Linked DNA regions of Homo sapiens: all the other regions are reported to be linked to region 3. The links are microRNA targets in miRTarBase. Many come from high-throughput screens and were not tested one by one. Region 3 holds a microRNA gene; each other region holds the end of a gene's coding sequence. Distances are from middle to middle.
Evidence for each region. The annotated mature microRNA hsa-miR-6799-5p reads GGGGAGGUGUGCAGGGCUGG and lies in region 3 at 3,882-3,901, opposite strand. An mRNA with a match to its seed (bases 2 to 7 or 8) in the 3' UTR can be bound and repressed. Matches are read on the target gene's strand: a 7mer-m8 pairs with bases 2 to 8, a 7mer-A1 pairs with bases 2 to 7 and ends in A, and an 8mer does both.

Region 1: miRTarBase lists OR7D2 as a target of hsa-miR-6799-5p. Seed matches in the 3' UTR shown: 7mer-A1 at 2,390-2,396, 8mer at 2,932-2,939 and 7mer-A1 at 3,100-3,106.
Region 2: the mRNA of KLHL36 is a reported target of hsa-miR-6799-5p. Seed matches in the 3' UTR shown: 8mer at 6,013-6,020.
Region 4: the mRNA of POLR3D is a reported target of hsa-miR-6799-5p. Seed matches in the 3' UTR shown: 7mer-A1 at 1,152-1,158, 7mer-A1 at 1,894-1,900, 7mer-m8 at 3,816-3,822, 7mer-A1 at 4,415-4,421 and 7mer-A1 at 4,569-4,575.

What each region holds. Positions count from the first base shown.
Region 1 is chr19:9,185,247-9,192,404 of GRCh38, forward strand. It overlaps OR7D2 (olfactory receptor family 7 subfamily D member 2), which reads left to right. Exons shown (of 3, transcript NM_175883.4): 3 at 523-3,572. The coding sequence starts at 536. The coding sequence ends at 1,474. It also overlaps the pseudogene OR7E16P. Among named protein-coding and RNA genes, the nearest start is that of OR7D2, 9.8 kb to the left of the region's middle. RefSeq lists an enhancer at 4,199-4,721.
Region 2 is chr16:84,661,189-84,668,188 of GRCh38, reverse strand. KLHL36 (kelch like family member 36) reads right to left here. Exons shown (of 5, transcript NM_024731.4): 5 at 503-6,611. The coding sequence ends at 6,056. Among named protein-coding and RNA genes, the nearest start is that of KLHL36, 16 kb to the right of the region's middle. RefSeq lists a silencer at 4,225-4,274 and an enhancer at 4,365-4,584.
Region 3 is chr19:49,788,614-49,795,771 of GRCh38, reverse strand. It overlaps MIR6799 (microRNA 6799), which reads right to left and starts at 3,906; the gene lies at 3,838-3,906. AP2A1 (adaptor related protein complex 2 subunit alpha 1) reads right to left here. Exons shown (of 23, transcript NM_130787.3): 5 at 3,708-3,837; 6 at 2,680-2,781; 7 at 34-142.
Region 4 is chr8:22,249,517-22,256,659 of GRCh38, forward strand. POLR3D (RNA polymerase III subunit D) reads left to right here. Exons shown (of 9, transcript NM_001722.3): 8 at 559-711; 9 at 880-5,085. The coding sequence ends at 1,002. It overlaps PIWIL2-DT (PIWIL2 divergent transcript), which reads right to left. Exons shown (of 2, transcript NR_134293.1): 2 at 5,060-5,390. Among named protein-coding and RNA genes, the nearest start is that of POLR3D, 8.0 kb to the left of the region's middle.

The sequences.
Region 1 (7,158 bases), 41 Mb from region 3:
GTAACCATTTTACTATCTATATGTATCTCATAACATATATAGTATACGTTGAATATACAGAATATAATTAATTTTTAAATAATTAAATATATGGGTGGTTGAGATGAGAGACTTCATTTTTTAGAATTCCATTTACGTATGAAAGATTAGACAAAATGAGTCCATAAATCACAAGTAAATAGTATGGACAACATTTCTATTACATGAAGGATGCCCGTTGGATGTTAACTGATGTTTCTCTTACCGCTTCCTTTTAAATAAATAAATAAATATAATTTTAAATAAATATGTATATTTTAAAATAAATACATATATACATAGTTTTATTTTTATTTTATTTTTTATTTTTATTTTTTGAGACAGTTCTCCCTCTATTGCCCAGGCTGGAGTGCAGTGGTGTAAACATAGCTCCCTGCAGTTGCAAATTCCTGGGCTCAAGTGATCCTTCCATCTCAGCCTCCCGAGTAGCTGGGACTACAGGTGTCCACCACCATGCCTGGCTAATGACCTCTTCTTTTGTAGATACATCAGCTACATGGAAGCAGGAAACCAAACAGGATTTTTAGAGTTTATCCTTCTCGGACTCTCTGAGGATCCAGAACTACAGCCGTTCATATTTGGGCTGTTCCTGTCCATGTACCTGGTGACGGTGCTGGGAAACCTGCTCATCATCCTGGCCATCAGCTCTGACTCCCACCTCCACACCCCCATGTACTTCTTCCTCTCCAACCTGTCCTGGGTTGACATCTGTTTCAGCACTTGCATCGTCCCCAAGATGCTGGTGAACATCCAGACCGAGAACAAAGCCATCTCCTACATGGACTGCCTCACACAGGTCTATTTCTCCATGTTTTTTCCTATTCTGGACACGCTACTCCTGACCGTGATGGCCTATGACCGGTTTGTGGCTGTCTGCCACCCTCTGCACTATATGATCATCATGAACCCCCACCTCTGTGGCCTCCTGGTTTTTGTCACCTGGCTCATTGGTGTCATGACATCCCTCCTCCATATTTCTCTGATGATGCATCTAATCTTCTGTAAAGATTTTGAAATTCCACATTTTTTCTGCGAACTGACGTACATCCTCCAGCTGGCCTGCTCTGATACCTTCCTGAACAGCACGTTGATATACTTTATGACGGGTGTGCTGGGCGTTTTTCCCCTCCTTGGGATCATTTTCTCTTATTCACGAATTGCTTCATCCATAAGGAAGATGTCCTCATCTGGGGGAAAACAAAAAGCACTTTCCACCTGTGGGTCTCACCTCTCCGTCGTTTCTTTATTTTATGGGACAGGCATTGGGGTCCACTTCACTTCTGCGGTGACTCACTCTTCCCAGAAAATCTCCGTGGCCTCGGTGATGTACACTGTGGTCACCCCCATGTTGAACCCCTTCATCTACAGCCTGAGGAACAAGGATGTGAAGGGAGCCCTGGGGAGTCTCCTCAGCAGGGCAGCCTCTTGTTTGTGATGGATCCCTTGGCCCCAGGACTAAGAAGTTTTGTGAGCACCAATGGCAAAAATGTTTTATTTTGAAATTCTTACTCTTTAAAATTAAAAACATTTTTTTATACTTTGAGAGTACAAATGCAGATTTCTTAACATGCATTTGCATAAGGGTGAAGTCTGAGCTTTTGGCGTACCAATTACCTGAATAGTGAACATAAGGCACTTTTTTTTCTTTTTTGAGACGGAGTCTCACTCTGTCTCCCAGGCTGGAGTGCAGTGGAGTGATCTCGGCTCACTGCAACCTCCGCCTCCCGGGTTCAAGTGATTCTTCTGTCTCAGCCTCCTGAGTAGCTGAGATTACAGGTGTGTGCCACCCATGCCTTTTAGTAGAGACGGGGTTTCACCATCTTGGCCAGGCTGGTCTCGAACTCCTGACCTTGTGATCCACCTGCCTTGGCCTCTCAAAGTGCTGGGATTACAGGTGTGAGCCACCACGCCCGGCCAAGGCAGTTTTTAAACTCTCACTCCCCTCTCACCTTTTGCAGTCTCCAGTGTCCATTATTCTGTTATAATGCCCATGCGTATACATTGTTTAGCTCCCAATTATAAGTGAGATCATGCAGCATTTGACTTTGTTTCTTTACTACCTTACTTAAGAGAATGGCTTCCAGTCCCATCGATGTTGCTGCAAAAGACATGATTTCATCCTTTTTTATGGCTGAGTAGTACTCCATTGTATATATCCTCGATATCTATATAGATATAGACATATGTAGATACATACCATGTTTTCTTTTTTTAAAAAAATTTATTTTTATGTCAGTAGTTTTTGGGGTACATGTGGTTTTTCATTACACGGATGAGTTCTTTAGTGGTGACTTCTGAGTTTTTAGTGTACCCGTCACCCAAGTGGTAGTAGTCTCTTATTCCTCACCCCCCTCCCAACCTTTCTCCCTTCAAGTCACCAAAGTTCATTATATTGTTCATATCCCTTTGTGTCCTCATAGCTTAGCTCCCACTTATAACTGAGAACATACGATATGTTCATATGGATCTTATGTATGTTGGTTGAACATACAAACAAGTCCAGGTTTTTCATTCCTGAGTTACTTCACCTAGAGTAATGACCTCCAGTTCCATCCAAGTTGCTACAAAAGACATTATTTGGTTCCTTTTTATGGATAAGTAGTATTCCATGCTGTACATATACCACAATCTTTATCACTCATTGGTTGATGGGCACTTAGGTTGGTTCCATGCCTTTGTAATTGCTAATTATGTTGCTATAAACATGCAGGTGTATGTGTCTTTTTCACATAATGACTTTGTTTCCTTTGGGTAGATACCCAGTAGTGGAACTGCTGGACTGAAAGGTAGTTCTACTTTTAGTTCTTTTTTTTGTTTTTTTTTTAAGACAGAGTCTCACTCTGTTGCCCAGGCTGGAGTGCAGTGGCGCGATCTCATCTCACTGCAACCTCCACCTCCCAGGTTCAAGCGATTCTCCTGCCTCAACCTCCTGAGTAGCTGGGACTACAGGCACCTGCCACCCCACCCAGCTAATTCTTCTATTTTTAGTAGAGACAGGGTTTCACCATGTTGGCCAGGCTGGTCTTGAACTCCTGACCTCAGGTGATACGCCCACCTCGGCCTCCCAAAGTGCTGGGATTACAGGTGTGAGCCACTGTGCCTGGCCTTCTAGTTCTTTAAGATACCACTTTAAAAAAAGTCCAGTCCTCCATTGATGGACACGTAGGTTGATTCCATATCTTTGCTAATGTGAATAGTGCCGTGATAAACATGGGGGTGTAAGTTAACAATTAATCTCCAAGTAATTTCCTTGATGGCACTTCTGTCCTATGTGCTATTCAAAAATTGTGTCCTTGATCATCGTTCTTAATTCTCCATTAGTGAGTTCTGAACTTGGGTTTGAAGCATTTGCTATAGCTTTGTTATCTCAAGTGGTGGCACAGAGTTCTTAAGCTATTGATTGTTCACTGACTTTATTTCTATGTGTTTGCATGTGGGTTTTTGTTGTTTGTGTGTTCGATCATGAACAGATCAACAGTGTTTATTTGTTTTCCTACTGGATGAAGTATGATTAAAATACGTATTTAAATATAGCTGGTTATATCTCTCTGGTGTCTCTTCTTCTTCTAAGAATATCAGTCCTATTAGATCAGGGCCTGACCCTTATGATTTCAGTAAACTTTAATTACCTCCCTGAGGACCCTGTATCTAAAGACAGTCATCATATTGGGGGTGAGGACTTCACTATATTAATTTTGGGGGGTGCAATTTAGTCCATAAGAGATGTTTATGCAGATCTGAGAAAGTTTCTGCCAACTCTATGGGGAGCTCTAAAGCTAGGGCTGCTCTTTGGAGAATTCTCACATTGTGTAGAAATAACCAGGCCCTATTACCCCAGGAAGCGTGGGGCCTTGAGGGTGATAGGGACAGAGGGTGGAGAAATTCTAGGCAGAAAAGGGCAGTTCCCAGGCAAAACCCCACCCTCAAGCCAAAAAGCCTGAAACTGCAGCCCAAAGTGAGAACTTATATCCCTGTTTTCTCGCTTGGATATCACCTTTTCCTAAACCACCCCTGACCCTGCCCAACCCCATGCTATGCCTATAAAAACCCCAGACTCAGCCAGTAGATGAAACTATGGCTGGACATTAGAGAGAAGCAGCTTTGACCTCAGAAGGACAGCTCGATGGTATAACTTCAGAGAAGAATTTGGCAGGAGACGACTGGACTTCATTACCTGCCTGCCCCATCCCTTTTCCAGCTTCCCTTACCTGAGAGCCACTTTGATCAGACATAAGATCCCTCCTGCATTTAACATCCTTCAATTCGTTCATGCAACCTTATTTTTCCTAGATGCTGGAAAAGTGCTCAGGAGCCACAAGTGCGGTTACAAAAGCCTGTCATACTGGCCCTTTGCCCTCGCTGGTGGAGGGCAGCCACTTCATGCAAAAAGGCAAAGGGCCCACTGAGCTGTTAACACTTAACACCCCACCCTAATCTTTTATTATGCAGATGGATTCTCTATCTGGCCGGCGCCATGTTGCCTGTGTCTTTACTGCACATGGGCTGACAAAGAAAAGGAAAGATGGAGACTCTATGCTGAACGTGTCTGGCTTTCAAGTAGCCCTTTCCTATTGGCGCAGCTGCTAGGATTCACCCATGCAAGCTTGCAGTTGCTTATCTATGTCTGCAGCTTGATTTTTCAGGCTTCTCTTTGTCAGAAAAGAAATGATTTGGGGGTTGCTTTTTGTTAGGGAAATTCCTCCAAGGACTCTTTTACCCTCACTCTCTGCCTAAATAATTTCTTTCTATCTCCTTTATCAATATGGCTGAGTCTGGGGCTGTTATGGGCTCAGAATGGGGGAGGGACAGACCATAGGTATTATTCAAAAAGGCAACATTCGATTGGCTAAAAGGCATTTTTCAAAAAAAAAAAAATCTGTTGGGAAAGGGCAAGTAAACAAGAACAGAAGTTTTCACTCTGGGTCGCAGGTTTCATCCAGGACGAGTAGTCCAGTCTTTCAGCCTATAGACTGTTTTTGGCTTGAAGGTGGGGTTTTACCGGGGACCCACCCCATCTGCCTGGGTATTTGGCTGTCTCCTGTCACTATCACAGAGATAACAAGAACACAACAAAGTAAAGAACCACGACATTCAAATGGATAATTTTTGAGGAAGCCATGTCAGTGCATGACATGAAAATGATTTAAATGATGCTTTAGAAATCTCAAGAACAGCTGAAAGTAAACTGATCAAAGACAGAGATTTGATGACCATGTACAGAGAAGAAAACTATAAAAGTAATTAATCACTGAAGGAGTTGTTGAATAGAAATATACAAAAACATATAAAGCAATTTTATAGGTGCTTTAGGAATGGGAAACAGAGGCATGTCTTTTAGAGAGAGAAAAAAAGAGCCAGAATATTTAAATTCACATTTGCCTTAGGTAGTTGTAATATCCAGGAAACAGGAGGATGTTCCATCTAACATCACTGGGATTACAGGCGTGAGCCACCGCATCTAAGAAATATTACTAATCATATCACAGAGTGTACACACAATGTGTACACTTACTGTGTTGTTAGCAGTAATAGCGAAGAGATATTATGAGTCATGTCACAGGGTGTACATCCACTGTGATATTAACATTAATATTGAAGAGATATTATGAATCATATAACAGGGTGTACAACCAGTGTTATATTAGCAGTAATATCGAAGAGATGTTATGAATCATATCACACGGTGTACACCCACTGTGATATTAGCAGTAAAATCGAAGAGATATTTTGAATCATATCACATGGTGTATACCCATTGTGATATTAGCAGTATTATCAAAGAGATATTATGAATCATATCCTAGGTGTACACCCACTGTGATATTAGCAGTAATTTCTAAGAGATATTATTAATTATATCACAGGGTGTACACCCATTCTGATATTTGCAGTAATATCAAAGAGATATTATTTGCAGTAATATCAAAGAGATATTATTTGCAGTAATATTGAAGAGATATTATGAATAATATCCCAGCATGTACACACAGGGTGTGTACAGATTAAGAACTGCAGCCCATCCTCTTTGGGCTGTTCCTGTCCATGTGCCTGGTCATGGTGCTGGGGAACCTTCTCATCATCCTGGCCGTCAGCTCTGACTCCCACCTCCACACCCCCACGTACTTTTTCCTCTCCAACCTGTCCTTGGCTGACATCGGTTTCCCCTCCACCACTGTCCCCAAGATGATTGTGGACATCCAGTCTCACAGCAGAGTCATCTCCTATGCGGGCTGCCTGACTCAGATATCTCTTTTTGCTGTTTTTGGATGCATGGAAGACATGCTTCTGAGTGTGATGGCTTATGACCGGTTTGTGGCCATCTGTCACCCTCTGGATTATCCAGTCATCATGAACCCATGTTTCTGTGGCTTCCTGGTTTTGTTGTCTTTTTTTTCTCAGTCTTTTAGACTTCCAGCTGCACAATTGGATTGCCTTACAAATTACCTGCTTCAAGGATGTGGAAATTCCCAGTTTCTTCTGTGACCCTTCTCAACTCCCCCACCTTGCCTGTTGTGACACCTTCACCAACAACATAGTCATGTATTTCCTTGCTGCCATACTTGGTTTTCTTCCCATCTCGGGGATCTTTTCTCTTACTATAAAATTGTTTCCTCCATTCTGAAGGTTTCATCATCAGGTGGGAAGTATAAAGCCTTCTCCACCTGTGGCTCTCACCTGTCAGTTGTTTGCTTATTTTATGGAACAGCCCTTGGAGGGTACCTCAGTTCAGACATGTCCTCTTATCCCAGAAAGGGTGCAGTGGCTTCAGTGATGTACACAGTGGTCGCCCCCATGCTGAACCCGTTCATCTACAGCCTGAGAAAAAGGGACATTAAAAGTGCCCTGCAGCAGCTGCATGGCAGAATAGTCTAATCTCATGATCTTATTATCGGTTCCATTCTTTAGCATGGGTTGGAAAAGGCAGCAAGGTCAAATATCTAGACCTGCAAAGAATATCGCTTCCTTCGTTATGTCTCTAGTTGGAATTGCTGAGTATTCTGATATCCTTTGTTCTTAATAAACATCATGATTGAATTCAATATACCTAGACGGACTCTTTTAGTTTCTGGGCAATGACCCTGGTATCCAGGTGAAATTACATTCTACTTCTTTCTTCTT
Region 2 (7,000 bases), not on the chromosome of region 3:
CAGGTGAGGAAGTCGGCACCGGGCAGCGGGTCCCGTTTGGGGCTCACTGGCTCAGAGGCAAATTCTAACCACCTTATCAGGTATGATGGCTGCGCAGACACCCCTCCCCAACCCTCCCGATGCTGACCTGCCGAAGGGACAAGGAAAGGGTGCACAACCGTGCCTGGGCTTCTCTGCTGGTGGCCTTGCAAAACCCCAGCAAGGCAGGGGAGCGCCCGAAGGAAAACAGAGCTGGTTCTTAGAGTATTGTGATTGCATTTTTTCTGATAAAGATAGCACACTGCTTGTCATAAGCTGTTTCCCTTGGTTTCTGTGTTTCTTTTCTAATCAAATTACCCCAGTTGACACACATTTAAGCAAATAGTTTCATTTCAGGTCACGGGGACTTAGCCCTGCAATCAAGGAACTGAATGAAATTCCTGGCAAAATACAGTAATTAGAAACACAATGAAAGCAGAATTGAAATGTCCCAGCCTCCCCACAACACCAAAAGGAAGTCTGGTTAATTTCCAAATTATATTTAGGATCAACAGGCAAGGGGTTCTTTTTCATACGGGCAGAGAAATTAGGACCAGACATCATTACAATAACCACACAAGACTAGGAATGTAATTATAAAATAAACCATACCCTAGCAAGCAAATTATTTTAATGTGTTTCAAGAATTGAATACTCTGTATGGAATTAAAAACAAAGAGAAAAAAGCAACGTGCAGAAAATTAATTAAAAAGAGTTAAGACACAGAAACTTCGAAATGTCATAAAATTACAAATACAAAAGCAACAAATTAAAAAACATACACGATTGCAGATTTCAGTAACATCAGTAGCCAGAACATACCCAATGAATCACTTAATCATCAAATATCTCGCTGATTTTGAAAGGGGGCTAGTGGTTGATGATTTAACCTCAATCAATCCAAAGGACATGACTCTTTCCTTACATTACAAGCAATCTGTAAAGATGGCTTTAAGTACCTTTGAAAAGGTGGAGTGTCCTTTCTCAAAGGAAACAGACAAGGAAGGGGTTATCCGCTCTGCCCCCCCACTACCGAAATGTGTACATTCATTCAACTCTGGTAACTAAGGCAACCAAAGGACAATTTCTTTTCTTTTTTTTTTTTTTTTTTGAGACAGTCTTACTCGGTCACCCAGGCTGGAGTGCAGTGGCGCAACCTCGGCTCACTGCAACCTCTGCCTCCTGGGTTCAAGCGATTCTCCTGCCTCAGCCTCCGGAAGAGCTGAGATTACAGGCGACCACGACTGCCTAATTTTTGTATTTTAGTAGAGACGGGGTTTCACCATGTTGGTCAGGGTGGTCTCAAACTCTTGACCTCAGGTGATCCGTCCCCCTTGGCCTCCCAGAGTGCTGGGAGTACAGGCGTGAGCCACTGCGCCCGGCCCCAAAGGACAATTTCTTGAGACCCCCACACACCTTCAGAACCACACATTCTGTTCATGTTAAAAACAAGAAATTAACAACCTCTAAAGCTAAGGACAATGATTCTGTAAAGTGCAAGAATGGTTCATTGTTTCCGCTTTTGTGGATTTCATGTTAAGAATACTTTAAAAGAAAGGGTGGGCGGGAGTAAACCAGGACCCCAGTCATATATTTGATCAAGAAATGACCCGTATGGCAAAGGTGAGACGTGGACCAGCCCTCAGGTGTCTCCAACTCTGTGCACACCACTGAGGTAGGAGCTCTAGAAGAAACGCAGACCCTCTCAGGGGGGTTAAGGTTTCCTCTTGGCAAATGAGCTGGGGGCCTGAGACAGTCATACCCACGGGCTGCATGCAACTTTGCATGCAACTTCACGAAATTCTAGAGCTGTATCACATCAGCGATGGAGAAGGGCAAGATCCAAGACAAAGCCACATGAGGCGAGGTCCTGGTGCTGCCATTTGTTGTCCAGCACAAATCAAGGGGCCGGAGGAAAGGGATGAGGTGGAAAACCCCGGCAGGCATTCTACAAAACAGTTATTAGCAAATTGTATCAAAAAGTATCAAAACATTTCAAAAAACTCTAAAAACTGCCAGGCTTGGCAGATGCGCAGGACAGGGTCTCCAAGTGCCCGTGGCGCTGCCCTATACTCCAGGCATTTATCCTAGAGGCCAGGATGCCACCCCCTCCCCTCCCCTCCTGGGCACTCAGAATCCACGGAGACACCAGGAGGTCTAAACCTCATCTGCAGCTGCCCCTCCAGGTTTGGGACCAGTGGACGGGGTTCCAACCACGGGCTCTGACAGCCACAAGGCCCATGAGATGCTGCTGCACCATGGAGGACCAGGGTGAAGGATGAAGGTCAGTGACTCTACAGGGGGTGGTGGGGGGTGTGGCAGGGGTCCCCTCACTTCCCACATTGCTGCAAGTCACTGAACGATCACTTGGCTTAGGGGCCGAGGTACACTGAACCACAGGTGAACACAACTGAGCTCACAAAGTAGGCCCCTGGACCTCAGAGGATGGACCCCACTTCCCCTCAGCATCTGGATGCCCACCTCAAAGGTGAACACCCCTTAGGGTGAGTTTCTGGGTCTCCATGAAGTCACCTTATCATGAGTGAGGGCACTCAATATAAATACACACGTGTGGTCCTGCTCAGAGCCAGGTCTGAAGTCCCACTTGATAGCCTCAATAAAATGGCAGAACAATAAAAATACCAATTGCGTGCTAACCACAGTTGATAAAATAATCTCTGTGCATTTAAAACAGCAGGAAGTTTGCTATAAGTAACAAGGGTTCATCAGCTTTCTACTCCCTCCCTTCTATTATTATAATACATCTATGTCTTAAGCAAACAGCTTTCCAACTTGGGTGAGGACCAAACCCCAAACTTACAACTAATATGAAGTTACAACTCTAATTCTTTAGAAATGAGAGAAGTCCAAACCTCAATAGAAGCCTGCCATGCTTATTTTGAAATGTTAAAAAAAAAAAAAGATCCAGGTGTCTTCAAAATTCAAGCAGAATAGCTTGAAACACTGAAAGTTTAACATGATGACATGTGTGGCTGTTTCCCTCTCAAAATGGCAGCCTGCAAGCACCTGTGCCTTCATCACTCTAGTTTAAAACCCCACATTCGTGACTGTGCGGTTCAAATGGCCACTGCATAAGCACAGCCCAAACTCTGCCCATCTGAGTTAAAAAACATTTTATTCTTTTGAGACAGGGTCTCACTCCGTCACCCAGGTTAGAGTGCAGTGGTGTGGTCATAGCTCACTGCAGCCTCAACCTCCCAGGCTCAGGTGATTCTCCCACCTCAGCCTCCTAAGCAGCTGGGACTACTGCATGCCCCACCATCCCTGGCTAATCTTTTGTAATTTTTTTGTAGAGATGGGGTTTTGCCATGTTGCCCAGGCATGGTCTCTTCCATTTTCAGTTCCATTTTCATGCACAGTAGGGTGAATTTTCAACTTAAAAAGACAAGTAACAAAAACCTGGCCCGGGCACCACCACTGGGTGCCCTTGTGCCCATCCACTGACCCCAACAAGCTCAAAAACCTTTCTTGTCACAGTGTAGCCACCATCAAATATTAGAAGTTGACCCACAAGATGAAACTTGTTTATCCTCCCTTTAAAAGGGTGGTCCCAACCTTAGTAATATTAGGGTCAAAGCCATGTCAATTACAAACCACCTTCATAGTATCAGGAGAGACACCACAAAATATGAAGCGCAGGACGTCGTATGTAACTCATGAGGCACAAGAAAATCAGAATAGAGGCCAGAAGCTCACACATTTCCAGGGACAAGTCCCAGAAGCAAAACATAAAAGAGCTGGCTTAGGCTGAAAACCAATGGCTCTCCTCTCTCCAAGGTCAAAGCTATCCCACTCCCCAAATCACTCACAGAGTCTTTCTATGTGCTCTCCCCAACTTGCCCCGAGATTCAGGCCAAACAACTGCCCGTTTGTTCATGACCCAGGCTGAGATGGGGAGAACAGCCCACGTACACCCTACCCTGCCTTCTGAGGGGTCTACAAGCAATAAAACCTTTCCCGAATAGGAAGGGGGTAAGCTATCCCAAAGTTGGCAGAAGTTCTGCAAAACATGTTTTGTGGGGGTCTGGGACTAGGTATGAGACAAACGACTTTTAGGCTCAAAGAAGTTTGGAAATGCTGGGTTGAGACTTCTCGGAACCTTTCATACACCGGAATGCTGCAGAGCTCCAAGCAGAGTTTCCAGCCTTTTGGTCTGTTTGTTTGTATGCCTCGCAGAACCTCTCAACAGTTTGTAAGCCTCCAGGGACTTCACATGCAAATAACTAGCTAGCTGAACATGCAGACTGCCCTCCTCACTAACCACAGAGGGCAGTAAGTTGGCTATTGAAGCTTTCAGTCCCCAAAATGCTCTCATCTCTTCTGGATGGCTACATAAACAGACCAGTGAGAACCACAGTAAACCCTGAAGGGAAGGGAAAGGAGGGGCAGCAAAGAAGCAGAAGAAATGGAAATTAAAGTTAACTAAGATTTTTTTCCTAGTCTAATATCAATCTTAACACATTGATCCTCATCCACTCGAGCAGCTGAGAGCCCTCTTAAAGGGCAAGTGACATCGAGACCTGCTCTCGGAACTGTCTGCAGGAAGACTGGTGTTAGACTAGGATTGAAGATGAAGCACATCTTGAAGTTTACTGATCTCTGCCATCGGATGCTGGGTGAGGTACAGCTCATTCATGCCTTCCTTGGCTCATGCTTAAAACCCATCACACTCCTATCCTCCCATAGTTCTGCACGTTTCTCATCCACTCGGGCAGCTAAGAGCCCTCTTAAAGGGCAAGCGACCCTGACACCTGCTTTAGGAACTGTTTGCAGGAGTCAGTGCAGGCCAGCTCCACATCCTGAAGGGGATGCCATCCGGGTACGAACAGCTCAGAGGCTGAATGGCCCTATCACCCGGGAGGAGCCTGGAGGGTATTCCATCTAATCCTGTGGCTAAGCGGGGTGGATGAGGGAACACACGGACTTGTTCGAGAATTTGCCCAGCAGCACGAAACTACTTAGAAGCAGAAAACTGGGGCAGGACCTGGCGTGGGAGTTAGGGAGCCCTCCACTGCCTTCTCAGGGATCCACATGTGCTCCTCTGTGCAGGAACTTTCAACAGCGCCTCAAGATAGAGTCACAGAGAACGATGGCAAATTCCATAGCACTCACTTTTTCTTTCCTGAGAAATAAACAGATTTGGGAGCTCAGTACATCAGTAATATAAAAGACAGTGGGTTCAGAAAAAAAAAAAAGGAAAAAAATGCACAAATTACAAAAAAATATGTATAAAGAGCTTCATACCTTTTTTCGTTTTTGGTTACCTGTAACGTTTTAGAATTCAAGAAGGTTTCCAATGAGGAAAGACGGAATTATTCAGAAACAGCGTTCACCTGATACGGAGAACAGCTCCCCAGCGGGAAGTCATCATGTCTCATCTGACAGTCTAGCGAGCTGCGTGGCCCCTGGTCACTCACTCACTCACCCTCATGGGTGGTCTCTGTGCACTCATTTATAAAACAAACACACTGGACCTTGCCAGTGATTCCCAGATGTGACTAATACCCAGAATTCCAAGAACTAGTTAAAATACAGCTTCTGGGCACCACCTCCTCCCCGTTCCTGGTGGTTTTGGATTCCATAATTCTGAGCGGGGCTCACGCATCTGTATTCTTAAAAGTTCAGCCAGGTTTGGGGAGGCTTGGACTAGGTGGCCTAAGAGAACCCTTTGAGGCCCAAGCTTCACTACAGAAATTTCTGTGTTACCCACGTGCCAGCTACTCTCAGGGGGACAGTCAGCAAGGACCCATGAGGAATCATAACACGGGGCAAAGACCTGTGAAGATACAAGGGGTTGCTCACTGCCTGGGCCCAGGGTTAGTTATTCAAGCAAGATATGTAAAGTTACAGATAGTATTTAATTGGTTACTGTGATATCATAGAAATACCAAGAATCATAAAAGTAAAAAAAGCTGCTAAGTTGTACATAATGTTTCCGGAATACTAAGAAGTTGCTGCTGGTCTACAGAGCCCTGGGAGGTGACGGTGAGGATGGTCCCAAGAGGCGCAGCTAGGGTCACTGGCCCCGGTCCTGGTGCCTCTTGCCTTTGCCTTTCTTCTTCTTGTCCTCTGGCCGTGGCTCCAGGGCGCAGACACAGGCGGACCCGCCAGCGATGGCCTTGGGCAGGTCGACGCCCCTGCTCCACTTGTCGGCCTCGCGGTCGTACACCTGCACGGTCTTGGAGAAGGCAGTGTTCTCCCAGCTGTAGCCGCCCAGGATGTAGATGCGGCCCTCCCACACTGCCACGCCCGACTCGCTGTTGGCGTGCAGCAGCGGCGCCACGCGGGTCCACTGGTTGCACTGCGGGCTGTAGGCCTCCACGCCCAGCACGTCGAAGCGCTCCATGGACTCGATGTTGTCATCGCTGCCCCCGATGGAGTAGATGCTGTCACCCAGGCTGCACATGCTGTGCCAGCCGCGCGCCGTGGTCATGGGCCGCCGCTCCTCCCACACGTCTGTCCGGTGGTCGTAGCATAGCAGGTTCTTGCGGTAGGGGCCAATTTGGTAGTCGTGGCCCCCCGAGATGTACACGAAGTCTTTGTAGATGGTGCCCGCGTGGCCGTACGTGAACCTGCAGGGTCGACGGGCAGAGACAGAGGGAGAGCTCAGGGCTGTGCCAGGCTTACCCCCTCCGAGCCGGGGAACAGCCTGCCGTCTTAGAGGGCCATGAGGATTTAAGAATATAGGGAGTGGGCACCCCATGAACACTCTATAGACAGTAGCCGTCATTAGCAAAGAAATGGCAGGGCAGGGCGGGGAAGTGGACAGCTTTGCAGTCAGGCCGCCTGGGCCAGAACCCAGCTTCACTCTCTCTGAGTCTCCCTTGCCCCATCTGGGAAATGGGAATAATCACAGGACCATCACCCTTTTCACAATGGCTGGAAACGACTAGAACAATGAGCTAGCAGGCACACATGCACCCGATGAATCACACATCAAAGAGGAAATACGACATACAGT
Region 3 (7,158 bases):
ACCCCGGGTTGGGGAGTGCACGGCGTTCATTACCTGGAGGCGGGTAGCACTGCAGCAGCCGCAGGAGCTTCACCGAGAGCCAGGGTGCTGGGACGAAGTAGTAGGTGTAGTCCTGGAGGTCGGTGGAGGCAGAGGAGACGATCTGGCGGGGAAGAGCAAGAAATAAGTTGGGGGCTGGGGTGGGAGGGGCACGTGGGTCCACATGCCAGGGTGGAGCAAATGGTGCCTTCCAAGGGCAGTGCTGTCAGTGTTAATGGTTTTGTTAGTGGGTTTTTTTTGTAGAGACAGGGTCTCACTATGTTGCCCAGGCTGGTCTCGAACTCATGGCCTCAAGCAATTCTCCCACCTCAGTCCCGCAATGTCCTGGGGTTACAGGCATGAGCCACCATGCCCGACCAATGCAATGGTTTTATGAAGCAGGAATCTGAGGCTCTGGGAAGGGAGCGAGGAAGCGTCAGGCACACTGAATGGGGGCAAAACTAGGACTAAGCCCGGCTGGTTGATCTTTCCAAGTAATGCTGGTGTGTGGTGGGCAGGAAAGGTCTCTGCTGGTTCCCTTCTGTGTGACAGTTTCCCAGGGCCCCCTCCTCACTCGGCTCTGAGCCTCCCATGCCCCAGGCTTCCTCCGTCAGAGCACACAGCGCACCGGCTCCTGGAGGCTGTTTCCTGTAGTCCCCCTACAAGGCTTGAAGCCACTCAGGGGCAGGGATTGGGTCTGACCCTTTTTTGGGTCCCTAGGCCTAATACAAGGTCAGATAGGAAGAGGTTCGGGGAAGAGGCAGGGAATTAGTGAAAGATTGAAAGATCATGGCCAGGTGCAGTGGCTCACGCCTGTAATCCCAGCACTTTGGGAGGCCAAGGTGGGTGGATCACCTGAGATCAGGAGTTCAAGACAAGCCTGACCAACATGGTGAAACCCCATCTCTACTAAAAATACAAAAATTAGCTGGGCGTGGTGGCACATGCCTGTGATCCATGCTACTTGGGAGGCTGAGGCAGGAGAATTGCTTGAACCCGGGAGGCAGAGGTTGCAGTGAGCCAAGATCACGCCATTGCACTCCAGCCTGGGCAATAAGAGCGAAACTCCATCTCAAAAAAAAAGAAAGATCATGTGACTTTTTTTCCTCATTGCAAACTCCTATTCAACCTTGAAAAGCCCTTCTCCAGGAAGCTCTGTCCCACCTCCGTGCTGGTCTGTGTTCCTACCTCACTGTCATCCTGGCACACTGCAGTACTCAGATGTGTGATGAATGAATGAAACAATGACTGAGGCTGAGTGCAGTGGCTCACACCTGTAATCCCAGCACTTTCGGAGGCTGAGGCGGGAGGATCACTTGAAGCCAGGAGTTTGAGACCAGTGTGGGCGACAAAGCAAGACCGATCTCTACAAAAAATACAAAAATTAGCCAGGCACCTGCAGTCCCAGCTACTCGGGAGGCTGAGGCGAGAGATCGCTTGAGCCTAGGAGCCAGAGGCTGCAGTGAACCATGGCTGCACTACTGCACTCCAGCCTGGGCGACAGCAAGACCCTGTCTCAAAAAAAAAAAAAACCTGAGAAAGAAACAATGAGTGGGCCAGGCGCAGTGGCTCACGCCGGTAATCCCAGCACTTTAGGAGGCCGAGGCGGGTGGATCACGAGGTCAGGAGATCGAGATCATCCTGGCTAACACGGTGAAACCCTGTCTCTACTAAAAATACAAAAAATTAGCCGGGCATAGTGGCAGGCGCCTGTAGTCCCAGCTACTCGGGAGGCTAAGGCTGGAGAATGGCGTGAACCTGGGAGCTTGCAGTGAGCCGAGATCGCGCCACTGCACTCCAGCCTGGGGACAGAACGAGACTCCGTCTCAAAAAAAAAAAAAAAAAAAAAAAAAAAGAAACAATGAGTGGATGCACGAGCTGGTGTGTTCTTCTCTTTGCCTGCGAATCCAGGCCTCTTCCTGACTGCCCAGGAGATGCGCATGTGTATTCTAAGTCTCAATTCTGGGATCGCCGCCCCCAGGAAGCCTTCGTGGACTCACAGGCTGTGTTAAGTGCCTCCTATGGGTGACCTATCCTACCTCCATTATAGCACGAGTCACCCCTTTTCTGACAATCTGTGACTGAGTCACCTCCCTGCCAGAAGGACAGGGAGCTCCTTAAGAGCAGAGCTTGGTTCTGACTCATCTGTGTCCCTGGTGTCACCCGACATGGAGCCTGGCATGCACAAGGCCTCAGGGGATGTTCCTGGGCAGGACAGGAGCAAAGGTGGGAGAGGGACGCCAGGCAGGAGTGAGAGGCTGCACAGGAAAGAGAGAGGCGGGAGGCAAAGCCAGAAGAGGGAAAGTGGGAGACAGAGAGAGAAGTGGGAGAGGGAGGAGGTCATGAGGGCGGCTGGCTCCCGGGGTGCTCGGCCCGCGAGGCCCTGTTCTGAGCACTCTATCCACAGCGCTCTGTGCCTCCAGGTGGGCACCGGTATTATCCCCACTGAACACAGGGGGCAGCTGAGGCCAGGGAGGTGAAGCCACTTGTCCAGGGCCACCCAGCCAGGAAGAGGCCGAGCCAGGATGAATCCAGCTCAGAGCCTGAGTTTGTAAACCTTGGGCTGGGCTGCCTCTCAGGGAGAGTGGGGGCCTGAGGGGTGTCAGAGGGCATAGGGATGCCAGGGCCACCTCCAGCAGCCAATATCTAGGCCACACCCACCCGGCTCAGGCGCGACACAGCCAGAGAGACGCACGTCTTGAAGTCATCTGGGTTCTTCTTGCAGAGACAGGTGATGAGGCTGACGGCGGCCGTGACCACACCCTGCAGGGGCAGAGGAGAGACAAGTCAGGCCCCTGGGGGAGGTGGTACCTGAGAGCAGAGGCTCAGGAGCGGGACAGGGTCGGGATGTGTGTGCAGTCGGGAAGATGGGGTTTAGGGGTGTGCACATGTGTCACTGTGCGTGCTTTAGGGGTGGGGTGAGGAGGCCACGGGGCCTCGGGCGCCATGGCCAGCACTGACCTGGGTGTGTGGGGTGTCCCTGGCAGGACCCCAGGCAGCTGGGTAAGGAGCAGTGAAGGGGCGAGACTCTAGAGGGTTGGGACTGTGGGGGTGGGACAGTCAAGGTTTCTGCGCTGGTGCGCAGGTGATGGGCGCTGTTGGGGGAATCTCCAGGTATTAGAAACAGAGTGGGATTTTCTAAGGGACTGGGTGGTTGGTGAGGGGTGTGGGGGTCACTGGACAGGATCCCTGGCCAGCCAGGGGAGTGTCAGAGATGGGGATGGGAGGGTTTCTGGACACTTGGGCAGGTAATGAGTACCGGGGACACTGGATCATGGTTTCTGGTGTCTGGTGAACGTCAGCGCCGAGGGGGAAGCTCCAGGAATCCAGGGGGATCAGGGCTGAGGTGGGAGCCCCAGGCATCCAGGGGGCGTGAGGGCTGAGGTGGGAGCCCTGGGTATCCGGGGGCGTGAGGGCTGAGGTGGGAGCCCTGGGTATCCGGGGGCGTGAGGGCTGAGGTGGGAGCCCTGGGCATCCAGGGGGCGTGAGGGCTGAGGTGGGAGCCCTGGGTATCCGGGGGCGTGAGGGCTGAGGTGGGAGCCCCGGGCATCCAGGGGGTGCGTGGGCTGAGGTGGGAGCCCTGGGTATCCGGGGGTGTGAGGGCTGAGGTGGGAGCCCCGGGCATCCAGGGGGGTCAGGGCTGAGGTGGGAGCCCTGGGTATCCGGGGGTGTGAGGGCTGGGGGCTCACCATGTGCTGGTCATTGAGCAGGTGTACCACACGCGCCGTCCACTCGCCCATGGGCACCAGGTCAGGCGAGGCCTTGTACAGTCGAAGGAGGCACAGGGCCGCACTCTGCTTGACACTGTCCATGCTGTCCCTGTGGGGACACCATGCAGGGCAGGGGAAGCAGAGTCAGTGACCCCAGCCCTGCACACCTCCCCTCCTCTCCTGTTCCTCCCAGGAAGGGTGTGCGAGGCCAGCGAGAGGGACAGACAGCCAGGCGGCCGCAGGATCCAGTCTGGCGCTGACCTCACGGCCCACCAGGACTCAGTGTCTTCATCTGCAAAATGATTGCATCTCAGTAACCTCACAGGGCTCAGGAACATGTCAAGCCTGGCTCTGCACCTTCATTCATTCACCAAGCACCTACTGGGTGCCCATGGGGTACCAGGCACTGCTGTTCACTCCATGGATAGAGTGGTGAATAAAGTGGTCCAAACACTTGTCCTCACAGGGCTTACATTTCAGACAGCACCACGAAAACACATACATCAAATACTGTCAGGGCTGGGCATGGTGGCTCACGCCTATAATCCCAGCACTTTGGGAGGTCGAGGTGGGAGGATCACTTGAGGCCATGAATTCAAGACCAGCCTGGGCGACAGTGAGACCCAGTCTCTTCAAAAATACAAAAATTAGCTGGGTGTGGTGGCGCAGGCTTGTAATCCCAGCTACTCGGGAGGGTGAGGTGGGAGGATTGCTCGAGACTGGGAGGTCGAGGCGGCAGTGCACCATGACTGTGCCACTGCACTCCCTCTAGCTTGGGCAACAGAGTTAGAGCTGTCTCTAAATAAATAAAAAAATTTAAAAATAAACAAAACAGAGTAACTTAAGGAGGAAAGACTGAAAATCCTCTGCAACAGAACATCCCAGGCAGAGGGAACAGCCTGTGCCAAGGCCATCAGGAAGGCGGAGCCCGTGTGTAGGAGGAGCAGCAAGGAGGCCTGCAGGCTGCGGCCTGAGCCATGGGGCAGGAGGGCTGCAGATAGGACAGGGAGGGAACAGAGAGCCAGACCCTGCAGGGCCTTGTTGGCTGAAGTGAGGACTTGGCTTTTTACCGATTGGGAGATGAAAGCCGCTGTGGGTGGTGAGCAGAGAATCAGCGTGATGTTAACACGACAGCAGGAACAGCTGCCCCCGGACCCCTTCGGCCTGTCCAGCACTCCCACAGGTCTCTGGGTGGATTCACACGTTTATCTTCTCTCCACAACAAACTGAGAAAATGGGTGTATTTTTGATCTGGCTTAGGTTTTTAAAGGGTCCCTCTGCCTGTTGTGAGGGAACAGACTTTGCAAGGCTCTTTTGAATCCAAGGGAATATATTCACAGGTTCTGGGGGTTAGGGTGGCTCACGCCTGTAATCCCAGCACTTTAGGAGGCTGAGGTGGGAGAATCACTTGAGCCCAAGAGTTGGAGACCAGCCTGGGCAACATGGTGAGACCCCCATCTCTACTAGAAATATGAGAATTAGCCAAGCGTGGTGGCGCATGCCTGTAGACCCACCTACTTGGCAGGCTGAGGTGGGAGGATCGCTTTAGCCTGGGAGGTGAAGGCTGCAGCCTGGGTGGCAGAGCAAGACCCTGTCTCCAAACAAAAAAAAGGGTGGGGGTACTTTGCAGATATGATAAAGTTAAGGATCATGAGATGGAGAGAGGATCCTGGGTGATCCAGGTGGACCCAATGTCATCACAGGGTCCTTATAAGGGAAAGATACAGTTCAGAGTCAGAGATGATGTGAGGATGGAACAGAGGTCAGGCAGGAGAGAAGATGCCACACTGCTGCCTTTGGGGATGGGGGAAGGGGCCACGAGCCAAGGAAAGCAGGTGGCCTCTAGGAGCTGGAGAAGGCAAGGACGCGGCCTCTCCTCTAGGGCCCCCGGAAGGGACGAGCCCTGCCCACGCCTTGATTTTAGCCCCGTGAGATGGATGTTGGACTTCCGACATCCAGAACCGGTGTTTGACACCGCTGTGCTGGTGGTAATTCATCACAGCAGTCACAGGAAACCAGGGTCAGCACTTGCCTGGCACAGAACCTGGCAGCCAGCGGGCAGCCCATCTCAGAGGGCTGACTCCAGGCCCCAACCATAACCCAGCTCCTAGCACAGCAAAGAGCATGGAGCATGATGTTGTTCTAGAAGAGGATCCCAGGGGAGCACCTTCTGGGGTCAGACACGCCTGCATGAGGTTGTGACTGTGGGGCACAGATGGGGGTAAGCCACTGACCCTCTCTGATGGGCTGTTTCCCCTTCAGGAAAATGAGGAGCCTTGTCGGCTTTGGGGAGAAAGAAATAAGATGGTGGGCCAGGCATGGTGGCTTACACCTGTAATCCCAACACTTTGGGAGGCTGAGGCAGGCGGATCACTTGAGGCCAGGTGTTTGAGACCGGCCTGGCCAGGCCAACGTGGTAAAACCCTGTCTCTACAAAAAAAAAAAAAAAAAAAGGCCAGGCGCAGTGGCTCACACCTATAATCCCAGCACTTTGGGATGCTGAGGCAGGTGGATCACCTGAGGTCAGGAGTTTGAGACCAGCCTGGCCAACATGGTGAAACCCCATCTCTACTAAAAATACAAAAATTAGCTGGGCATGGTGGCACGTGCCTGAAATCCTAGCTACTCGGGAGGCTGGGGCAGGAGAATCGCTTGAACCTGGGAGGCAGAGGTTGCAGTGAGCTGAGATCTCACCATTGCACTTCAACCTGGGAGACAGAGTGAGACTCCGTCTCAAAAAAAAACAGAAATGAGATTGTGTGGTGCATGGCCATAGCCTTGAGTAAGAGGAGGTGCTGGGAGCTGTCAAGACTGGCCCAGCCATGGCCTATCAGTAAAGGGTTTCCCAGAAAGCACCCAACAGACAGCAAAAGACACAGGGGAGAAGTCCTCAGAGGGGAGACCTGCACGAGTCAAAGGCCTGTGGCAGCATGTCTCACTGGATGTGCAGCCACCCAGCAGGTGGCTCCTGCCGTCATCCAGGCAGATACTCGCCCGACTGACGCCTGTTGCTACGGCCTCCTAAAGTGCTGGGAACCCTCGTGTGCTGCAGCTGGAGGCGGACACAGGGACAGGCCCTCTGGAGAGGCTCTGGGCTTCCTCTGTCTAGAAAGGCCACTGCTGTGTGTGCAGCAGACCAAGACCAGCAGTGCTGCCCCCAGACGCTCACCCTACAGAAACGTTCACTGCCCAGTGGTCATCAAGTTAGAACCAGAAACCAGCAAGAAGCCTGGCCACAGACGATGCTCCATTTGTGACGGCACTTTCCCACCTCCGTCACAGCGCACATCTCCCGAGCCCTGACTCCAGGCCACTTTCCCATCTCCGTCACGGCGCGCATCTCCCGAGCCCTGACTCTGGGCCACCTTCCCATCTCTGTCATGGCGCTCATCTCCCGAGCCACAGTGCATCTCCCGAGCCCTGACTCTGG
Region 4 (7,143 bases), not on the chromosome of region 3:
AAATATTTCAAACACAAATGAGAGAACATATGGCCAGATGCGGTGGCTCATGCCTCTAATCCCAGCGCTTTGGGAGGCTGAGACAGGAGGATCACTTGAGCCCAGGAGTTCGAGACTAGCCTGGGCAACGTGGTGACACCATGGCTAATACAAAAATTAGCCAGGCATGGTGGCGTGTGCCTGTAGTCCCCGCTACTTGGGAGGCTGAGGCGGGGGAATGGCTTGAGTCCAGGAGGCAGAGGTTGCAGTAAGCCTAGATCATGCCACTATACCCCAACCTTGGCGACAGAGTCAGACCTTGTCTCAAAAAAATAAGAGAACGTAAACCGCCATGTACCAGAACTCAGCTTCAGCAGTAACTGATATTTTGTCCGTGTATGTATTTGTTTGCTGTGGGTTTTGTATTTTAACCATAGCAGACAGCCCTAGGAGAAGGCACTCTTTGGGGAGCTCATTTTGACCTTTGCTGTGCCTTTCTCTTGGGGAGTAGAAGGGGGTTCATGAAAGATGGAGGAAAGAGCTCCTAGCCCAGTGTCCATCCTCTGGTTTTCTCCGCAGGAAGCCAAATTGGCAGAGAATGCTTGTACCCTGGCTGACCTGACAGAGGGTCAGGTTGGCAAGCTACTCATCCGCAAGTCTGGAAGGGTGCAACTCCTCTTGGGCAAGGTGACTCTGGACGTGACCATGGGAACTGCCTGCTCCTTCCTGCAGGTAAGAGCCTCCTTAGGGGCAAGGAGGGACCCTTTCAGGAGTGAAGGAGGATTGAAGAGCCACTGCTAAATAAGGGAGGGGGTTTCTGGGAGTATCATGTCCCCATTCACAGCTCTACACGCCGGGCACGTGGTGGTGGTTCTCATCACTGTCTCTGTTAATTGGCAGGAGCTGGTGTCCGTGGGCCTTGGAGACAGTAGGACAGGGGAGATGACAGTCCTGGGACACGTGAAGCACAAACTTGTATGTTCCCCTGATTTTGAATCCCTCTTGGATCACAAACACCGGTAAAATGAGCAGGTGGAGGAGGACGGCGCCTGTGCCCACGGCTGCTGCCTGCTCCAGACATTTTGTTCTTGAATCTGTGAGACCCAGAAGGGGCCCACTGAGCCCACTCACTCCAGCCTTTGGCAACCATTGTTCCAGGTCCCCCAGGGCTTCCTCCCACAGCAGCTGTGAATGGCACAGTGACCTTCCTGCAGCGTGGAGATGGCACATCCTTGCTGCTGGGGACTTGGCCCTGCTATTTATTTTTGTATTTATGTCTTAATCTCTTCCACTGATGCATCCTCCAAGGGTAGATGGGGAGGGTCTGTGTGAAGGGGCCGGCTTCTCTTGGTGCCTGCTGGGTTGCAGGGGCAGGAAGCGTGTGGACTGCAGCTTCTGCTGGTGCTCCCCCCGTCCTCCTGGAGGCAGTATAGGAGAGAGAGCAAGGATTGAGTCTGAGACTTAAGCACTCGGTCCCAGCTTGCCAGTTCCTGGTTCTGTGTCCTTGGACAAACTACCTAACCTTTCTGAGCCTCCTATACCTCATCCGACACAAATGGGGATGATACCTACCTCCAGGGTTGGCGTGAGGATTCATGGGCTATTATAGATGAAAACTGCACAAGGCCAGAACCAGCAGGCACTCAATAAACGTTCATGTCCTTTTTCTCTACCTGAGTCTATTTTCAAACAAAATAGAGATTCTAAATCTCCCAGAAGCAGCGACTAGAGCTGCTCCCGTCCCCACTCTTGCCCCTTCCTGCTTTATATCCCGTCCTCACCCTGGGCCTGATGCCCTAAATTTATGGTGTCAGATTGTTCTATGCCTTTTTCTCCTGGCTCCTGTTAGCCAGGTGCCTCCTGTGTGAGTTACTGTAATAGCTGCAGGTAATAGAAAGGAAGAAGTCAGAGACCCCTCCCAGCACCCTACAAAAGCCTTTGGGGGACATGTTGGGCCCAGGACATGTTCCCTGCACTCTTTCCTTTGCAGTTAGTACTCATGTATGAGCCGAAGTCATATATTGCTAACAAAAAAACTAAATCCTTCATAAGAGAAGTTAGGGATGTATTGAATAATGGCCTCTTTGACACTTGGCCGATGATGCCCACTTCAAAAACTTTGGGTTTCAGAGGCCTGCCCGTCTCCTGTCCTAGCACTGCCAGAGCCACCTACTCAGTGTTACTTTTTTGGGTCTGTGATCCTGTTCCCTTTACCAGGTCATTGTACTGTGTTGTCCCTGGAGGAACAGCTTCTCCTCTTGTCTTGACAGTAGGGCTGGGGTTTTCCCTGGTTCAGCTGGGGAGACGTTTGCAGGTTAGAAAAAGGTCTCATGCGGCAGCGTGTGTGGCTGTTAGACGCTGATGGCACAACTTCCCTTTGCTGGCGTCGTGGCACCTGGCCTCTGGGACAGTATGAACCATAGGGGCTCAGGAAGAACCGCTTCCCCTCCACCCCCATCCCTGATTCCTAGTGGCCCCTTAGATTTTGGGTACATCTTCCTTCAGGCTCACCTTCCTTCTTTTCAAAGTTCCTCAAGCCTGTTACTCATTTGTCAAGGCTGGGCTTCTCCTACAAAGCCCTCAACCTGCCCAGCCAGCAGCTGTGAGGCTGACTGAATATTTGGTGACCATATCACCCTTTCTGGTGCTGAAGCTCATGTCAGCTCCATTGGACAGTGTTATTCTGGGCTCTTCTCACTGTAGAGGACTGGAGCAGAAAGGGTTCCTTGGAAACCTGTGCTGGGAAGCCCTGTTTGGTCTAAGGCTAAGCTTTGGTTAACTCTGGGCTCCAGCCCTTTCTTCCTTTAAATAGCTGATGCACGGCCAGCAGGTCTCCATTCTCATCCTCTCTTTCTATTCTGTTTCTTTGGTTCAGAAATACTCTTCTGCTTTTTTTGGACGAACTCAATGGCCCGATGTTAGATATTGGGTATTTTTCAATCTTCTGTTTTCTGACCCTTCCAAGAAAGTTTGAGGAAGAACATGTACTGCTTTCACGTTCATTTCGCCCATTCAGATGTCTTGGCTTGAACCTTATGACTCCGTATCAAAGTCCTCACAACCTGTCTCAGATCCCTGATGCACAAATTAGGTCTTATTAATAAGTGTGGGAAAAGAGAGGAGAGTCCACCTTCTTGGTCAGGCCCCTGAGGCATGCATTTCTACCAAGGAATATGGACAGATGACAGAGGAGAAGAGCCCAAAGCCAAATTTATACATGAGTGCAAGTGGATGCAAATTTGTTGCTCCCTGCATCTGTGTATATGCTTTCTGTTAAATACAGAAAGAAGGAACAATAGGCTTGCACACTTTTCTAACTACATGTTTAAGTGGCAGAGTCCAGGCTGTCGAGTCACGGTTGGGTTTGAATCTGACTCCACCAGTAACTTTGGTTGGAAAAAATCACTTATCCTCTTTAAGCTTGATTTTATTTATTTTATTTTATGTAAGAGTGAGACAGTAGTAGCTTAATAGGGTTGCTTTTAAATTAGAGTGAACATGAGGCATTTATTCGGTGCCAGACAGATAACTGCCTATAACAGGATGTGATCAGCACAAGTAACAGAAAATTAGCCTGACGGTGGCTTAAGCAATGGGAATGTTTATCTCACATAGCAAAAAGTCTGTAAATAGATGGTTCTAGAGTTGGGTGGAAGCCAAAATGTCATCAGGATTTCCTTGGAACCGTCTGCTTTGCCATCCTCAGTATTGCAGAATGGCTGCTCCTGCGCCAAGCATCATTCTGCAAATGATGGTGTCCACAGCCAGAGTGGACAGTAGTACAGGAGCCTTCTCATTCTGCCCTTATCCGGGAATAACCGTCAGCAGCTCCAGCAACCTCCCCCCTGTCTCTTTATAGAGTGGGGCCACGTGCCCACTCTTGGACCAGGCCCTGGCAAAGGGGGATGGGTCGACTAGTGTATCCCCTGGCACTGAGCACACTTGCCCTTGAGCTGGGGTTTTGTTAGTAGGGAGGAAGCTGGAGTGGCAGTTGGATAGACAATTCATAGTAGCTGCTGCCATGTTCAAAAAATGCTGCAATGTAAAATCATAAAGTATTCATCTAGGCATAACTTTTTAAAATATTCAGTCACCTTTTATTCTACTAAAATCAATTTTAACATTTTAGTGTATATTATTTTATTTTAGATTCAGCAGGTACATGAGCATGTTAGTTTTGTTTTGTTTTGTTTTGTTCTGTTTTGTTTTTTGAGATGGAGTCTCACTCTGTCGCCCAGTGGTGTGATCTTGGCTTACTGCAACTCTGTCTCCCAGGTTCAAGTGATCCTCCCGCCTCAGCCCCCCAGATAGCTGGGATTACAGGCACATGCCACCACACCTGGCTAATTTTTGTATTTTTAGTAGAGACGGGAGTTTCACCATGTTGGCCAGGCTGGTCTCAAACTCCTCACCTCAAGTGATCTACCTGCCTCAGCCTCCCAAGTGCTGGGATTACAGGCGTGAGCCACTGCGCCCAGCCACATGTGCGTGTTTGTGTATATTGCGTACTGGTGGGGATTGGGCTTCTGTCATACCTATCACCCAAATAGTGAACATTGTACTCAGGTAGCATTTCAACCCTTGCCCCCCCTCCCACTCACCCCCTTTTGGAGTGCCCAGTGTTTGCTATTTCCATCTTTATGTCCATAGGTACCCATTATTTAGCTCCCACTTATAAGTGAGAACATGTGCTATTTGATTTTCTGTTTCCGAGGTTAGGATAATTACCTCAAGCTCCATCCATGTGGCTGCAAAGCACATGATTTCATTGTATTTTATGACTGCTCATGTATATTATTTCAGCCTCCAAAATTTTGTATGTTATTTATAATGATATAAATTATGTGGTTTTATCGTGTACTCTATCTCACTCAGAAATACATACAATTCTTCGTTCCCAGCTACTCTGGAGCTGAGGTGGGAGGATCACTTGAGCCCAGGAGTTCAAGACCAGCCTGGGCAACATGGTGAAACCTTGTCTCTGAAAAATAAATAATACACACCCACATGCACACACATCCAGTTCTTCCATGTTAATGAGTATGTTGTGTTTCACATACTTCTGAATTAGCCGAAGGAATTAAAGGTAGCATCTTTTAATCCTCAGACTGCCCTGCGTGGTCCGATTGAATTGGGCAGTCAGCACTAGGCTCTTCAAAGGGAAACAGGCTTCTTTCTTAGGACGGTGCACAGTGAAAGAGTGGCACACACGCTGTTCATCCAGTGCTCCAACCCCCAGTCCTGGTGTCAGATACTTCTACATTTGGGGCATTTCCCCTTGAGATGGCTGTGGCTAGCGACACATGATGTGAACACCTCTCTTGGATTGTGGTTCGGCCGCACAAGGCCCCATCAGAGTTCTACAGGTGGAGTGTGGGGCCCAGAAGGGGCTCAGGTCTTAGGGGTGTCATCTGAAAAAACAGAGATGGTGATGGGACACCAGTTCTAGGAGCCCTCTGCATGGCCACTTTCTGCCTCAGCTCTTCTAAAGCATTTCTTCTGTTCCCTTCCATTGGGGTAACCACTGATCTGTCTTCCCAAAAACTGAGTCAGAAGTTGGACTTTGTTACTTGGCTCATCTACATTTAAGATATAGTCAGAAAAAAAATGCAGTCTTTACATCTTAAGAAAGCTTACATGGGCCAGGCGCAGTGGCTCACACCTGTAATCCCAGCACTTTGGGAGGCCAAGGTGGGCGGATCACCTGAGGTCAGGAGTTCGAGACCAGCCTCAACATGGAGAAACCCCGTCTCTAGTAAAAATACAAAATTAGCTGGGCGTGGTGGTGCATGCCTGTAATCCCAGCTACTTGGGAGGCTGAGGCAGGAGAATTGCTTGAACCTGGGAGGCGGAGGTTGCGGTGAGCCAAGATCACGCCATTGCACTCCAGCCTGGGCAACAAGAGTGAAACTCCATCTCAGAAAAAAAAAAAAAAAAATAGAAAGCTTACATGAAAGAAAAAGAAAAATGCAGTCTTGATCACTGTTGGCCTGGAGACTTTATCTTGTGTGTTTTCCAGGGCGTGCATGAGGTTTCACTGGACAAGTAGAAACCATTCTAGGTATTCAGAAAGAGTTAATACAAGAAGAGAAGTTTATAGACTCGTTGGAAGGCTGGAGGAGTGAGCCATAGGTTAAGCATCCAGGAATCAGCACCCCCTAGAACAGATGGTGAGGGAGCTACACCCTCTGCCACAATCAGGAGGGTGGAGACTCAAGCTCGACTGAGTTCCGGAACACAACACACTGCCACAGCTGCCAGCCAGGGGTGAGGGAATCCCACAGCCCCAGCTGCCTCTGGGGAACCATACAGCTGTAGCTGGACCCTGGCACACCTGAAGAAAGTGCCTGCTGTGTGCTAGGCACCCTGCAGGAGTTAGGAAAGCAGTGGTTAGGGGCTGTGTCCTGCTGGAGGAGCCTGCACTCTAGTGAGGGAGACAGGATAAGCTTAAGGAAGGACGTTAAAAGGTGACAAGAGTTTGGGAACTTGCAGGGAGCAGGGGATTCTGGGTGGTGGCGGGCATGTTGCAGCAAGTAGGGTAGGTCTCCTTGAGAGGGTATCGTTTGAGGAAGTGAACCAGCGGGATCAGATGCAGGTGGGGAGAGTGCTCTGGGCTGAGTGAAGAGTAAGACAGAGACTGGCTGGAGCTGAGGGAGTGAGAGGGGTGGGACCTGGCCCTGGAGGGCTTTTAGGCCATGGTAGGGACCTTGGCTTTATTCTTTTTTTTTTTTTTTTTTTTTTTTTTAGACGGAGTCTCGCTATGTTGCCCAGGCTGGAGTGCAGTGGCGTGATCTTGGCTCACTGCAACCCCCACCTCCCAGGTTCAAGTGATTCTCGTGCCTCAGCCTCCTGAGTAGCTGGGATTACAGGCACCCGCTACCAAGCCCAGCTAATTTTTGTATTTTTAGTAGAGACAGGGTTTCACCAGGTTGGCCAGGCTGGTCTCAAATGCCTAACCTCAGGTGATCCACCCGCCTCGGCCTCCCAAAGTGTTCGAATTACAGGCGTGAGCCACCACACCCAGCCCGGCTTTATTCTTAAAGTGACCTGGTGAGCCAGCTGGTGTGGAGATGAGGCGGGAAGCAGGGCTGATGGAGTCCCTGGACAGTGGATGGCAGTGGCTTGGCCAGGCCGCTAACAGCAGGGGCACTGGGAAGTGATTGG